Homo sapiens: one gene and its partners. The protein of the gene in region 3 binds, or shares a complex with, the protein of the main gene of each other region. Each region holds a gene or a part of one and is shown on either strand. Other genes may lie near its edges.

Evidence for each region. The genes of interacting proteins can lie anywhere in the genome.
Region 1: KAT5 (region 3) and VPS72 share a complex: the UniProt entries of both Homo sapiens proteins name them as parts of the nuA4 histone acetyltransferase complex.
Region 2: KAT5 (region 3) and EPC1 share a complex: the UniProt entries of both Homo sapiens proteins name them as parts of the nuA4 histone acetyltransferase complex.
Region 4: KAT5 (region 3) and RUVBL2 share a complex: the UniProt entries of both Homo sapiens proteins name them as parts of the SWR1-like complex.

The regions. Positions count from the first base shown.
Region 1 is NC_000001.11:151,187,398-151,192,501, forward strand, and holds the start of VPS72 (vacuolar protein sorting-associated protein 72 homolog), read right to left. Parts: upstream 2,801-5,104; 5' UTR 2,725-2,800; coding exon 2,608-2,724; intron 1-2,607. UniProt on the Homo sapiens protein: Deposition-and-exchange histone chaperone specific for H2AZ1, specifically chaperones H2AZ1 and deposits it into nucleosomes.
Region 2 is NC_000010.11:32,267,251-32,271,676, forward strand, and holds the end of EPC1 (enhancer of polycomb homolog 1), read right to left. Parts: coding exon 4,304-4,426; intron 1,886-4,303; coding exon 1,813-1,885; 3' UTR 501-1,812; downstream 1-500. UniProt on the Homo sapiens protein: Component of the NuA4 histone acetyltransferase (HAT) complex, a multiprotein complex involved in transcriptional activation of select genes principally by acetylation of nucleosomal histones H4 and H2A.
Region 3 is NC_000011.10:65,715,252-65,717,778, reverse strand, and holds part of KAT5 (histone acetyltransferase KAT5), read right to left. Parts: intron 1,113-2,527; coding exon 972-1,112; intron 891-971; coding exon 797-890; coding exon of another isoform or gene 793-796; intron 107-792; exon of another isoform or gene 1-106. UniProt on the Homo sapiens protein: Catalytic subunit of the NuA4 histone acetyltransferase complex, a multiprotein complex involved in transcriptional activation of select genes principally by acetylation of nucleosomal histones H2A and H4.
Region 4 is NC_000019.10:49,012,707-49,016,470, reverse strand, and holds the end of RUVBL2 (ruvB-like 2), read right to left. Parts: intron 1,988-3,764; coding exon 1,868-1,987; intron 1,451-1,867; coding exon 1,321-1,450; intron 900-1,320; coding exon 785-899; intron 655-784; coding exon 629-654; 3' UTR 501-628; downstream 1-500. Other genes in the region: LHB (lutropin subunit beta), read left to right, coding at 161-403. UniProt on the Homo sapiens protein: Possesses single-stranded DNA-stimulated ATPase and ATP-dependent DNA helicase (5' to 3') activity; hexamerization is thought to be critical for ATP hydrolysis and adjacent subunits in the ring-like structure contribute to the ATPase activity.

The DNA of each region.
Region 1 (5,104 bases), on a different chromosome or scaffold from region 3:
CATCATTTCCTCCTAACTGATGTTTGTAAAAGACAGCCTGGGAACACATTAATCCCCTCAGCTTTAATCTGGTATTAAGCCATATCACCAGAGGGTAGTAGATCAACCACACATTAGCTTAGTGCCCAATCAACATACTTGCACTAAATTAAGGATTTACTACCATTCCTTCGGCTTTTATTGAGAGTCATTAAGAGACATCACTAGAAAAGAGAATGTTTGTATATCATCTATGAAAACCATTACTTTTTATAATATAAGGATATAATGATAAATGCTCCCTAGGATTTAAGGCTGAAAAAGTTTGTGTCTCTTGAAGAACTTGTATGCTTCTTTCTTACTAAAAAAAGAAATACAAGGTTTGGCTACCAGGAAGCTCACAACTAAATTTAATATCAATTGCTATTACCATTTTAGCAGAGGTTCCTGGTACAATTACTTCTGATCTGTCTCTATTTTTACTGTTCCTACTTTTTGTTTATATTGTAAGCCTCCTTAAATCCTTTTTGGAAGCATGAAGGGTACATATTAAATAACAAGTCGTAAAATGACAGAAATAGGAAAATGGCCTTAGAGGAGGGATGAGAAAGTTCTATTTTAAACTAGTTGGTTAGGGCTGTGTCAGTAATGACTCTGTCAGTGATGTGGGTTTTTTTTTTTTTTGAGACAGAGTCTCACTCTGTCGCCCAGGCTGGAGGGCAGTGGCGCAATCCACTGCAACCTCTGCCTCCTGGGTTCAAGTGATTCTCCTGCCTCAGCCTCCTAAGTAGCTGGAATTACAGGCACACGCCACCACAACCAGCTAATTTTTTGCATTTTTAGTAGTGACAGGGTTTCACCATGTTGGTCAGGCTGGTCTCGAACTCCTGACCTCGTGATCCACCCGCCTCAGCCTCCCAAAGTGCTGGAATTACAGGCGTGAGCCACCACACCCAGCCCCTAAGTCCTGTGGGTTCTATTCCTTAATTTCTCTTGAATCTTTCTGTTTCTCTACTGCCATGCCCCCTTCAAGCCATTCTCATTACAGAGTAAGTAACCTTCCTAAAGTACAAATTTCATCGTGGAATTCTGATGACTCTTCTCAGTCCTCTGGATGAAGAGCAAAATTCCTTAACATAGCTCACAAGGCCCTAAAGGATCTGGCCCATGCCTACTCCCTGCAGGCTTATCAATCTTTAGTCTCCTTCATGCTCTGGAGAATGAAAGTAGACTTGCAGGTCCTAGACCAGGATCTCAATGTCTTTACATACTCAGCCCATCCTGCTCTGTGGACTAACCTTTCTCCTTCTCCTGCTTTTCATCAAGCTAAGGTCTACTTTTCAAACTGTCCTCAGCTTAAACATCATCCCTCCAGGGATGCCTATCCTGATCAACAACTTTGGTTCAGATGTATTACCTTAACACTCTTACACCTTGTTTTAGTCCTTATCACACATTTTTTGTTTGTTTTTGAGACGGAGTCCTGCTCTGTCGCCCAGGCTGGAGTGCAGTGGTACGATCTCGGCTCACTGCAACCTCCTCCTCCCAGGTTCAAGCGATTCTCTGCCTCAGCCTCCTGAGTAGCTGGGACTATAGGCGCACACCACCACGCTTGGCTAATTTTTGTATTTTAATAGAGACAGGGGGTTTTACCATGTTGGCCAGGATGGTCTCGATTTCCTGACCTTGTGATCCACCCGCCTCGGCCTTCCAAAGTGCTGGGATTACAGGCGTGAGCCACTGTGCCCGGCCAAAGCCACTGTGCTCGGCCTATCACACAGTATTTTAACTGTTAACCCAGGCAGTTACCCCACTGGGGCATGGAGTATGTAAGGACAGAGCACTGTTTTTAATATTCTGTTTCCCTAGAGCCTAAAACAACCTATTACCGATGGCATGCTCTGGGTACTCAACACATTTAATAAACGGGTAGATTCAACTAATAAAAATTTAGCAAGTGGCAGCCCAGTCCGGACACCTCACACATAATGTTGAACAAAACAGACCATCTCTAACTTTATACAGTTTACAATGCAATAGAAAAGCATAAGCAAGTAAGCAAACCAAATCTAATTGCAAATTGAAATATGTTCTGTGGAAGAAATAAATGGGGACACTTGTTAGGATAGTCAAGGAAGGGTTATCTTCCTGAGAAAACATTTACACTGAGACCTGAAAGCTGAAAAAGAAGTGGGCTAAGCTCCTCTACTTTTGGAGCGGTTCCTTTCCATGTCTCAGGTGAATAATCCAGCAGTGGGCCAACGAGTATACATCGAGCAACTGTCTACTACTATGTGTGTGCCTCGTGTATGCTGGACGTCAGAAGTACAGTGAAAGATGCAACCACGCAAGTATACGGTAGGTTTCTGCCGTTCTCTGTTCTCTGGAGTGCCTCCGGAGAGCTTCTCCGTCTCAGGCCCCTTTGACCCCATCCAGAGCTCTCCCTTCTAGGACTCCACACTATCCGTTCCCCCGCCTCGCCCCCCGGCTCCGATTCACCCACCCAACTCGAGTATCAGCTCCCAGAGCTCCTCTCTATTCCCCGCCCTCTTCTTCTTTGTCCGGGGTTTCTCCCTTCAGGGCTCCTCTTTGCCTCCTCCCCTCCCTTTTCCCAGGCCCGGATCTTGCCTCTGTGAAACCCCCATAAGTCGTCTGGTAGAACTCATCTTCCTCCTCTGCCTCCAAAAGCCCAGAAAGCCGGTTCCCAGCGGTCTTCCGGGGTGCCCGGCCCCCAGCCAAACTCATACCGCCTACCGAGACTGCGCCGCCACCTGCAGCCCCTCACCAGCTCGGTTTTGGGAGCTCGACGCTCGACATCACTACCTGCGGGTGGCCACCAGCGGCGGAAGTCGGGCGTTTACAGGCAGAAGTAACAGAGTGTCGAGAGACTCCCAGTCCCACCCTCTAAACCCTCTTTACTCTTCAGCCTCTCCTACTCCTGCGCGGATGCTCTAGGCCGCTTGCTCTAGTACCCAGCGATCTCCCTTGCTCAATGAGTCCACTTGGTGGTACGAAGACCCCCATAACCCTAAGTCAACACATTTTATTTTATTTATTTTTATTTTATATATATATATGGTTTTTTTTTTCCGTAGGGACGGAGTCTCGCCTCGCTCTGTCGCCAGACTGGAGTGCAGTGGCACGATCTCGGCTCACTGCAACCTCCGTCCCCCGGGCTGAAGCGATTCTCCTGCCTCAGTCCCCCGAGTAGCTGGGATTACAGGCGCCCGCCACCATGCCCAACTAATTTTTGTATTTTTAGTAGAGACAGCTTTCACCGTGTTGGCCAGGCTGGTCTCGAACTCCTGACCTCAGGTGATCCGCCCGCTTCGGCCTCCCAAAGTGCTGGGATTACAGGCATAAGCCTGCGCCCCCAGCTCACATTTTCTTTTAGAAGAGGTCATTCTCTCCGCTCCAGTCCATTTTCTACACTGCTGCTAGTAGGAAACTTTCTAAAAACCCACGTTTTGCCACTCCTGTCCTCAAACATTTTTAATGGCTCCACATCATCTACAAGATAAAGTCAAAAATCCTTGAGGAAGGAAGCATAGTATTGTGGTTAAAAACACAGCCATAGACATTTATCCAAAGGAAAGGACATAATTCAACCTGAGGAAGCCAATTTAGGAGGAAAAAAAAAAAGGAAATCAGTATATCCAAGAGACGTCTGCACTCCATATTTATGCACCCCCATATTTATTGCAGCACTACTTAGAGTAGCCAAAATAGGAAATCAATCTCTGTGTCCAACAACAGATGAATAAAGGAAATAGGGTGTATATACACAATGGAATACTTTTCAGCCATTAAAAAGAAGAAAATCCTGTCATTTGCAGCAACATGGATGGAACTGGAGGACATGTTAACTGACTTAAGCCACGAACAGAAAGTTAAAACACTGCATGTTCTCACTCATATGTGACGCTTTTAAAAAGTTGATTTCATAGAAGTGAAAGAACAGAGGATACTGGAGGCTGGGAAGAGCAGGGGGAAGGAAGGGACAGGGAAAGATTTGTTAAAAGACACAAAATTGTGGCTCACACCTGTAATCCCAGCACTTTGGGAGGCCGAAGGGGGTGGATCATGAGGTCAGGAGTTCACGACCAGCCTGGCCAAGATGGCGAAACCCCATCTCTACTAAAAATACAAAAATTAGCTGGTCGTGGTGGTGGGCGCCTGTTATCCCAGATACTCGAGAGGCTGAGGCAGAGAATTGCTTGAACTCGGGAGGCGGAGGTTGCAGTGAGCCGAGATCGCGCCATTTGCTCTCCAGCCTGGGAAACAGAGCAAGACTCCGTCTCAGAAAAAAAAAAAAGACAAAATTGGGCCTGGCACAGTGGCTCACACCTGTAATCCCAGCACTTTGGGAGGCTGAAGCGGGCAGATCCCGAGGTCAAGAGATTGTGACCATCCTGGCCAACATGGTGAAACCCCGTATCTACTACAAATACAAAAATTAGCTGGGTGTGGTGGCGCGCACCTGTAGTCCCAGCTACTAGGGAGGCTGAGGCAGGAGAATCGCTTGAACCCGGGAGGCAGAGGTTGCAGTGAGCTGAGATTGTGCCACTGCACTCCAGCCTGGCAACAGAGCAAGACTCCATCTCAAAAGAAAAAAAAAAAAGACACAAAATTACAATTTTTTTTGAGACAGGGTCTCTATTGCCCAGGCTGGAGTGCAGCAGCAGGATCATGGCTCACTGCCTCCTTGACCTCCTGGGCTCAAGCTGTCCTCCCACCTTGGCTTCCAAAAGTGCTAGGATTACAGCTGTGAGCCACCACACTGGCCCCCAATTACATTTGTTTGTTCGTTTGTTTGTTTGTTTGAGATAGGATCTCACTTTGTCACCCAGGCTGGAATACAGTGATGCAATCACTGCTCACTGCAGTCTCGACCTCCTGGGTTCAAGTGATCATCGCACCTCAGCCTCGTGGGTAGCTGGAACTACAGGCTCGTGTCACCACGCCTGGCTAATTTTTTGTACTTTTTGTGGAGATGAGATTTCATCATGTTGCCCACGGTGATCACCTGAGCTCAAGTGATCCCCACTCCTCAGCCTCTCAATGTGCTGGGATTACAGGTGTGAGCCACCTCGCTTGGCCCCAAATTACATTTAGATAGGAGGAA
Region 2 (4,426 bases), on a different chromosome or scaffold from region 3:
GGCCGACACGCCCTACCCCAGCTCCCTCCAGCCCTGGCGGTGTTATCCAGTGCAGTAGACACACTACCACCTCGGGATCTCTGTACTTCTCTCTGCCTGGAATATTTTTCCTTAACTTCCAGTCTCTGATGAAACATAACTGCCTGTGGGCCCTTCCTTGACCACCCTACTTGAAACTGCAACCTCCAGCCTTCCCGGGCACTGTTTGTTCCCTTCCTTCACTTTTCTTCCAAATACTGGTCGTAATATATTTTAAATGCATTTATTTATTTATTTTCCCCCTATGAGAGTATAAGCTCCATGAGGGCAGGAATTATTTTCCCCACAGTTGTAGGACCTAAAGTGGTCCCAGGCATTGCAGTCATTCAGTAAGTAACTGTTGAAGAAAATGAACTTAAAGTCATCACCCCCCATTTCCATCCCCTCCTTTATGGAATGATTCTAATATAAGTCACACAGAGGTTCTTGGGTTGAAAACAAAAGCAAAAGACCACTACACATTAGTTTGTCAACATGTAATGCCCTGGGTTTATTTTGTGAGAATTCTATCACAATTTTTCCAGGTGGGATTAAAAACCTTAAGGATAATGTATGCCATTGGACTGGGCATTCAGACTTCGGTACTGACAAAGCACTAGTAGTAGTCTGTTAAGTACCATTCTCTTCACAGAAGAGAGGTCAAATATTTCCAAAGGAAGGCACCCGATATTTGTGGTTCTGGCCTTGCAGCCTTCTGGAGAATCTTAAAAGGAAAAAAGCTGGCTGGCTGTTTTTAGAAACTGGAATGATGATACACGTACAGCAATTACTGCATTCTTCTCCCTTATATCCTTTTCGTAAGAACAAGTAAAGAATGAAGTCTTTTAAACAATTCGACAATAAAAAAGTACAATTTTTTTTGTGCTAAAAAAAGGGCAAGACAACATAAACTCCAGTTGTAAGGACTCCATTTGCATACTTGATTTAACACTTTTTGGTGTGGAAGGAAATGGGACTACTGGGCTGTTCGCAGAGCAGCAACATAATATTAGTGCTTTAAGTACCAGAAACCACCCACAGCTTTGTGGGCAAGTTGGGGATGGAAAGATTCAAGAGACTTCATTTTTAGCTTGTTACTTGTCCTAATGATAGTAGACCAGGAAGATCCCCATTTAATAGTACATTCCCCATTTTTAAAAAAACTGATGCCTTTTTTTTTTTTTTTTTTTTTGTAAAATTCTGTATGTATGTCACCATTTTTTTTCACATGATACACAGAAAACTCAAGGACCCAGAGGGGAACCAAGTTATGTTATACCATTTACAAAATACCAAGGAGTCCACAGCTACCTAACACATTTACTACAGCACAGGAACCAATGAAGGTACAGTGTACAAAAAACTGTAAACACGGCACAATAAATAGATAAAACAGCAGGTTCCGCACCATGCACATGATGTGATGACACTTCATCTCTATACAATCTCACATCTCACACTCTTTGTTGCAATTGATTTCCCTCCCACCCCCCACCCCCAAGTGCAAAGCATCACAAATGAACATTTCTGTATTCAAGTAACATATATACAAGGGTATTACAAATATGCAGTACTGTACAGATAATTGCTGTATTCTTAATTTACAGATGTTGATTTTTTTCCTATTAACAGTAAGAAAAGAAAAATTGAAGCATGAGAGATGAGCATTGCTGTCAAGTCCCCACAGCTGCCACAGAAACGCATGTGCTGCTTTCCATCATCCCTTGCATTCAAAATGCTACTGATGCATAGCACCTAATCAAGTCCCCAGGCTGCAGTTCCACTCGGAGGAAGCTACGTCACCTCCATCGCTACTGTGTTGTCTGCTATGTTGTTCAGTGCTGGCTTTTCTGATTCATGATTTTCCCTGTTGAAATAAAGTTCAATCAATTACTTATCTACAACATAAATATTCAGCAAATGAACATTATCTTCCCAACAAAAAGTTTATTTTTATTAACAGGAAGAAATTGGACTCTTTGGGAACAAGCTAGCAAGTAGAGGAATACGAATCTTTATAGTTTATTATCAGAAATCAGGCTAATGTTGACTATAAATAAATTCCACAGTCAACTACATTACCATCAAAATTATAGTAGTACTCAAGCAACCTAGATGTTAAAAACAAAGAATTCCCATGTTTTAGTAATTGTTGTTTCAAGTTCCTTCTCTATTAAACCTTTCAAAAGAGTTTTTAAAAAGGAAACAAACATAACTGAGATTTGTGTCAGGCTTTAAATCAGTCTAATACATGGAGCTGAGTGGCACAGCCACAGAGCTCGAGGGCCCTAGTGGTTCTACAGTCTAGACTTTTGAGTGTCCTTAGAGAAATACATTAACTTCTCTGCGTCTCAGTTTCTTCATCTTTAAAAACAAAAGGACATGTGATATGAAAATTCTATACATGGCAAATATTCCATGGTTAAACAATTCTAGAGCAGTAAAATCATGATATGAGTCAGAACTATAGCTGACAGATGAGCTATATAATTAGACCCAGAATACTATTAAGAATGGATTGGCATTAAGCAGACAATGACTGTTACTTAAATTCAGAAGCAGATGCAGATGCATGGTTTGGAAACTACAGGCCACAGTTCATTGCTACAAACCCTGCTTTCTTCTGGGCCACTCCTGGCTGAGACAGTCTACCAGTCTGGCATTTAAAGTGCTCCAGGAATCTGGAATGGCTTCTCCTGCCATTCCAATTTAAACTACTAACCTTCCTGAGCCTATACAAAAACCAGTTTACTTGTTAACTTCTAAACACTTGTATTTCCTCAACTTTGTATTTTCACTCAGCCTCAAATTTGTATTTCACTCCACCTGCCAGAAATGCTTTTTCTTTCTCCTCTTTGCCCGAAGACTAACACAGATTGGATCTGATCTTATTTTGTTAGAAGAGTCCCAGAATTCCCTGTGCAAAAAAAGATTTCTCCTTATACTGAATTACAGCCATCATCTATACAATTAATTTAACAAGTATATAATGCTTTGTGATATCTACAATTAGCATTATTGGACTTCTCACTCTTTTATGCTTGTCTGCTAACTAAACTGAAAACACCTGTCTTTTTCTTTTGTTTCTCCCACAGTACCTTGTAGACAGCAGGATTTTAACTACCCTTAATTCTACAACATAATAGAGCATAAGCAAAATTCTCAACTGTCTACTGAAATCCAAGACGGCAAGTTAGCACAAAAAATAATGGTTCAATTTAGAGTTGACCTGGCATGAATACTGTAAGTCTTTACATTAATAAGAATAGCTTAACGCCGGGCGTGGTGGCTCATGCCTGTAATTCCAGCACTTTGGGAGGCCAAGGCAGGCTGACCACCTGAGGTCAGGGGTTCAAGACTAGCATGGCCAACATGGTGAAACCCCGTCCCTGCTAAAAATGCAAAAATTAGCCAGGCATCGCGGTGTATGCCTGTAATCCCATCTACTCAGAAGGCTGAGACAGAATCACTTGAACCTGGGAGGCAGAGATTGCAGTGAGCTGAGATTGTGCCACTGCACTCCAGCCTGGGCAACAGAGCGAGACTCGGTCTCAAAAAAAAAAAAAAAAAAAAAAAAAAAAGAATAGCTTAGCATACCAGTGATGGGGCAGGGGTTTCTATCAATTCTACCTGTTTACATGAGAAGCTGTGGAAAAAAAGTCATAAAAGAAACGCTCTCAGGAGAACTCCTTCCATCCAAAGACGGAAGAAAACTGAGAGCATTATACGCTTTTTTTTTTTTTTGAGACAGAGTTTAGCTCTTGTTGCCCTGGCCAGAGTGCAATGGTGCGATCTTGGTTGCAACCTCCACCTCCCAGGTTCAAGCGATTCTCCTGCCTCAGCCTCCTGAGTAGCTGAGATTACAGGCATGCGCCACCATGCCCGGGTGATTTTGTATTTTTAGTAGAGGTGGCCTTTCACCATGTTGGATCGGCTGTTCTCGAACTCCTGACCTTAGGTGATCTGCCTGCCTCTGCCTCCCAAAGTGCTAGGATTACAGGCGTGAGCCACTGCACCTGGTATAACTATTGTTATAGTAAGAAAGGGATGTTCCAAATCATATATGCAACATTCACTATACCAGTTAGTTCAAATTCTTAATATTGAATTAAGTGTTCAAGAACTGTTTAGTTCTTGAATAAATAAGTGATCAATTCTCAACTATACATTTTCAATGTATAAAAGGAAAAGAACAAGAAACACAAAGAAATAGGTAAAGAACGATGCTGGAGGACTGAAGTTAGATCTCTTATTCCAGGTATGTTAGGCAAAAATAACTACTCACCTTGGAACTGAATCTACAGAGGATGAAGATGGGACCTTGGAAACTTGACAGTTTGCTGCAGCGGCCAGCTTTAAGGCAGATGATGGAACAGCACTTAAAGTCCTAGGTATATGTCGTGCATTT
Region 3 (2,527 bases):
CTGAGTTTCTTCAAGCATCCACTTGTGCTACCAGGCTGAGAAGTTCTGAGGATGTGACCCCATCTGGGCATCATTTAACCAATAAAATTTCTCGAATGGACCATAACCTTGATCAGGTAAAGCCTCTGTGTCTTCACCAGGTCAACAGCTAGAACTTCCTCCTTGTTTCTCAGGTCAGAGCTTGGTTATTCCAAGTGAGTGGTGAGACAGACAGAATGGGGGGTGATGGGGAGTAAGAGGCTGGGAAGAAGGGGCCTCAGGGTTGGGGAGGGCACTGAAGAGCCCATGTGTGATGAAGTTCAGAGTCCCTTCTGGCTTTAAGAGACTGACCTCACTGGACACAAGGAGCGAGGGACAACATGCTTATGTCTATCTGCTGACAGCATTTTGGATACCTGCCTGCAAGGCTCAGGGGACAACTGGGGACATTAGCCACTGGTCCTTGCCCCAGTACTCGTATCATGGCACACGTTACCAGATACATCAGCACCAGCGGCTCACTAACCTTCTGCCCATGGCTCCAGGCAGGAGCACGTAAGTCAGATTTGGGGAAAGCTGAGTGGCACTTAGAACCCTGGCCAAGGAGCAAACTGGGGGGCTGAGAACCTACCCCAGATAAGCAGGGCAGTCAGCCTGAACGGAGAGAACCCCGGGAGAGTGCCACTGTTATTTCTGGCTGGTTCCCCTAGAGGCTGGGCTGCACAGCCAGGGTTGAGAATCACAGTAGCCTGGCCCATCTGCCTGTGAGGCACCGATAGTGGGTCCACTACCCCCTGGCCGCAGCACACATACTCACTGAACTCGATCAGCAGCTTGCCGTAGCCCCGGCGCTGGTAGGGAGGCAGGGTTAGGATGCAGGCCACATTGTAGTCTTCCGTTGATTCTTTCTCCTGGAGAAGGGGGACAGGTGAGTGTCAGGGAAGGGATCTGGCTCAGGACAGGGCACAGGGACAGCTTGGGCAGGCACTGACCTTGGAGAAGTAGCCCACGATGTGGAAGCCCTTACAGTCATACTCTGTCATGACGTAGAAGAGGAAAGGGTCTGTGTCATAGTACAGTGTCTTATGGTCAAGGAAACACTTGGCCAAAAGACACAGGTTCTGGGAATAACTCTGCAAGAGAAAAGGCTTGTCACCACTCTGGGTATCCCGCCTTGAGCCTGGCCAGTGGTTCAGGGTCAACCAGGAGCTTCACTGTTCGTGCTATGCCCCAGGCTGCTAGGTGATGAGTGTTCTTCCCTGGCTGGGCCTGACCCACTCCACCAGCCCGCAGCTTAGGCAGGGCTGCTCCTCAGTGTTGAAAAGCCTGTGTGCCAGATGTGTGATGGTGTCTGAGTGCCTCCCTGCTCAGTCAGGCAAGTTTCCCGCCTTGCTCCGCACACCTCCATTCTAAGCCTGACCAGGAGAGACCACTGCCTTTTAATGTTTTTTAACAGCAGCCAACGAACTAATGTGTCCAAAGTGAGACTCTGACCACGGCTCCTCAAACTAATGTGTCCAAAGTGAGACTCTGACCACTGACTCCCTATCTAACAGTCTTGGGAGTCTAGCTGTTAAAAAACCTAACATTCTACATCCACAGTCACACCTCCTGGGAACTGATCTGCTACTCTACAACAGAGTTAAGGAATTCTGGAATTTAACAAAATAACTGCCTTAGGGTTTACCCCAGCAAAATTATGAATCCTGCTGCTTTACTTCTGCACACGATTTCTCCTGCATTTCAGACATTGTGGGTTTTTTTTTTTTTTTTTTGACACAGGGTCTCACTCCTGTCACCCAGGCTGGAGTGCAGTGGTGCAATCATGCAATCGTGGGTCACTGCAGCCTTGACTTCCCAGGCTCAGGTGATTCTCCCAACTCAGCCTCCCGAGTACCTGGGGGTTTCTCCATGTTGCCCAGGCTGGTCTCGAAATTCTGGGCTCAAGTGATTGGCCCACCTTGGCCTCCCAAAGTGCTGGGGTTACAGGTATGAGCCACTGTGCCCAGCCAGAAATTGCTTTTTATTTATTTATTTTTTTTACACGAAGTCTTGCTGTCTCCCAGGCTGGAATGCAGTGGTGCAATCTCGGCTCACTGCAAACTCTGCCTCCTGGGTTCACGCCATTCTCCTGCCTCAGCCTCCCGAGTAGCTGGGATTACAGGCACCCGCCACCACGCCCAGCTAATTTTTTGTACTTTTTAGTAGAGACAGGGTTTAACCGTGTTAGCCAGGATGGTCTCGATCTCCTGACCTTGTGATCCGCCCGCCTCAGCCTCCCAAAGTGCTGGGATTACAGGTGTGAGCCACCGTGCCCAGCCCAGGAATTGCTTTTTAACCGCCTGCTGCTGGGTACTGCCACTTGGATGCCCAGGTCCACATTAATAATTACAAAATGGTGGTTAACACAGCATCTTCATCACCTAAGCTCTGTCCCATGTACGAGCCTTCCCTCATCCTCCCTTTTCTGCCTCCCAACCAGAATGATCTCTGCCTTTCACAAAGACCACCTTTGTGCATCCATGCCTACTCTTCAGAACACCACTGC
Region 4 (3,764 bases), on a different chromosome or scaffold from region 3:
GTCTGCCTCTCTGGCCTGCGGTTGGGGAATGGGGTGTGGGAAGGCAGGAACAGAGGGCTTCCTGGGCTCCTGAGTCCAGGACCTGTGGGGTCAGCTTGGGAGCTCAGCTGAGGCGCTGGCCTCAGGCACATGCTCATTCCCCCACTCACACGGCCTCCAGATGCGCGTGCTGCAGGCGGTCCTGCCGCCCCTGCCTCAGGTGGTGTGCACCTACCGTGATGTGCGCTTCGAGTCCATCCGGCTCCCTGGCTGCCCGCGTGGTGTGGACCCCGTGGTCTCCTTCCCTGTGGCTCTCAGCTGTCGCTGTGGACCCTGCCGCCGCAGCACCTCTGACTGTGGGGGTCCCAAAGACCACCCCTTGACCTGTGACCACCCCCAACTCTCAGGCCTCCTCTTCCTCTAAAGACCCTCCCCGCAGCCTTCCAAGTCCATCCCGACTCCTGGAGCCCTGACACCCCGATCCTCCCACAATAAAGGCTTCTCAATCCGCACTCTGGAGGTGTCTTTCTGTGGGCTCAGGGCAACCACACATACACAGGGTGGGTGCAGCTTCCCAACCATTTTATACAGAGTCACAGTGTCAGAACTCTGGTGGAAAACAGGGTGGGGTCGGGGGATGACATCCAACTCAGGAGGTGTCCATGGTCTCGCCTTCTGTGGGGAGAAGGAAGGCCACATGGTCAGTGTCGCCCAGGTGGCAGGGCCTGAGCCTTCTACGCCGAGCTCCCTCTTCCTCCCTCTGAGGTTGGCTCTGGCAGTGCAGGTGCGGGGTGGGGATTCTTACTGAGTTCGTTGAAGAGGAAGGCGTCCTGGTACTCCTTCATGTACTGCGTGGAGCGGGACTCGTCCAGGAAGAGTGAGTAGACCCGCTTGATGTCATCCACCTGCACTTCTGTACCCTGGAGGGGGAGGGCGAGTCCTCAGTTGGGCCCCTCTCCGTGAGGCTCAAGGCACAGACCCCAGCGTATGCCACCTCCATGCTCTAGGCAGCAGAGTGTGGCATGTGAGGGGAGGGCATTCTGGGCCAGATTGCCTGGGTTCAAATCCTGCCTGGCCATCTCCTTGTTGTGGGCCCAGCCTCTTCATTCCTCAGTTTCTTTATCTGTAAGGTGGACCTAACAGCATCTACTTAAGTCAAGAGAGATTTACTGATACCTACTATAGGCCAGGCTGGATGATACAGAAGCCAACCTGAGGGATGAAAATTCCCTGCGTCTGAAAACGTACATTCTAGGATGAAATCGGAACCCTGGAAGCCCCTGAAGTACTGTGTCACTCACTGCCGCCATCTGGCCCTGCTGGCTAATTCGGCCGGCTGACCTTGCGTTTCCGGCACACCAAGCTGGCAGCTGTGATGAGCTGGATGGCGTAGCGCAGTGACGTCTCCAGCCCGATGCGGGTCAGCACCGTGTAGGCGTCCTCACTCATCTCCACATCTTCTTCCTCGCACCTGCAAGCAGTGGGGGACAGGGGTGGCTCAGCCGGGGCCCAGCCTCTGACTGCAGCAGAAGTGGCCACAGCAACCCTCTGGCCCTTCCCCACTGGGAATATGTGGCGCCTGCATCTTAGAACCATAGAATGCTGAGGCTAGAAGAGCCACGGAGACAGGGGCTGGGCTGGACCTAAAACCGAGGCCTCCTGACCACCCCCAGGGCGCTGGCCCCAACACCAGTCACGGGTACCTCGCCTCCCTTTCCCACCGTGGCTCCTGCTCCCGGATCGGAGGCCACCGTCTGGGTGCCCGCTCAGCCCTCTCTCCTGTAGGCCCAGCCACCATGCCACTCCGCTGGACCTCAGTGTCAGCATTTGTCAAACAGGGTAGACCCCAGCCCTGCGTCTCAGGCGCACGGCCTGGTCCTGCCCGCACCGGATGCGGAGGATCTGCTTCGTGTCTTTCTCGCTGTAGGGGGTGGTGGAGACGATAAGCAGCCGGTCCAGCAGGTCTATGGGGATGCCGTGAGGGCTCTGGTAGCTGGTGCCCCGGATTCTGAGGAAGAGGCAGAAAGAGGGGGCTGTCAGGGGCATGTTCCCTCTTCATTCCCTTTGCTGGGAACACTCTCACCTCCCATCGCCACCCACTCACTGGGCCCAACACCACTTAACCTTTAGCTCGCGTCTCCTGTCACATGATGACATCACCCCTGATGACGCAGCCTTCCACAGCTGCGTCAGTCCCCCAAGGGCACCTTTCCGCGGAGCTGGGCTGCTTTAAGCTAGATCTCTGCCTCCAGGATTACTGGATCAAGGTCCCACTCCCGTGCTCGACACAAAGCTTCACAAAGGAGGGGACTGCACCTGTCTTGTTCCCTGCTGCAGCGGGGCCAGCCCAGGGCTGGTGCCAGGGGATACAGTCAGTTCCCCTTATTCACAGTAGTGAGGTTCTAGAAAGTCATCGTGAACACTCCAATTAGCTGATCCTGAGCCACTGCTCCTACTGGAATACAGGGTTAGGCTCTCTCGAGCCTCGGCTTACAGTATTTTCATCAATCCATATATATATAATCTGGGTCTATGCGTATTTTCATTTGTGTGTTTCTGGTCTTTTTGGTTTGTTTTTTGAGACGGAGTCTCGCTCTGTTGCGAGGCTGGAGTGCAGTGGCGCGATCTCGGCTCACTGCAACCTCCGCCTCCCGGGTTCAACCGATCCTCCTGCCTCAGCCTCCCAAGTAGCTGGGTCTACAGGCGCACGCCATCACGCCCAGCTAGTTTTTTCTATTTTTAATACAGACAGGGTTTCACCATGTTGGCCGGGACGGTCTCATTCTCTTGACCTCGTGATCCACCCACCTCGGCCTCCCAAAGTGCTGGGATTACAGGTGTGAGCTACCGCGCCTGGCCTCATGTATGTGTGTTTCTATTTCCATGTGTTTGTTATGTAACATCACTGTTTATTCTCTAACATGGAGCTCGTGTCAACAGCATTCTAACTTGGGCTCAGCGAAGCGTCTGTAACATGGCATTTTCTCCGTCAGGCTTCACAGCCTCCTTGCACTTAGGATACTAGACAGCACTTCAACACTGTGCACAGGGGACACTTTAAATGGCAATATCACCAACAAATGGCCCCAAAAAGTTTAAAAAAAAAAGGCACAAAAAAAGTGACAACACTTTGGGAGGCTGAGGCGGGTGGATTGCTTGAGCCCAGGAGTTTGAGACCAGCCTGGGCAACATGGCAAAACACCATCTCTACAAAAAAAAAAAAAAAATTAGGCCGGACGCGGTGACTCACCCCTGTAATCTCAACACTTTGGGAGGCTGAGGTGGGCAGATCACGAGGTCAGGAGTTCGAGACCAGCCTGGCCAATATGGTGAAACCCTGTCTCTACTAAAAATACCAAAATTAGCTGGGCATGGTGGCGGGTGCCCATAATCCCAGCTACTCAGGAGGCTGAGGCAGGAAAACTGCTTGAACCCAGAAGGCAGAGGTTGCAGTGAGCCGAGATCGTGCCACTGCACTCCAGCCTGGTGACAGAGCTAGACTCCGTCTCAAAACAAAAACAGAAATTAGCTAGGCATAGTGGTGCATGCCCGTGGTCCCAGCTGATGAGGAGGCTGAGGCCAGAGGACTGATTGAGTCCCAGGGGTGGTGTGTGTGTGTGTGTGTGTGTGTGTGTGTGTGTGTGTGTGGTGGGCACTGAGGCTGCAGTGTGCCATGATCGTGCCTCTGCACTCCAGCCTGGGCGACAGAGCAAGACCCTGTCTCAAAGAACAAAAGTGACAAACGTAGCACTAAATAGAATACAACAAGGACACTTATTTACAGC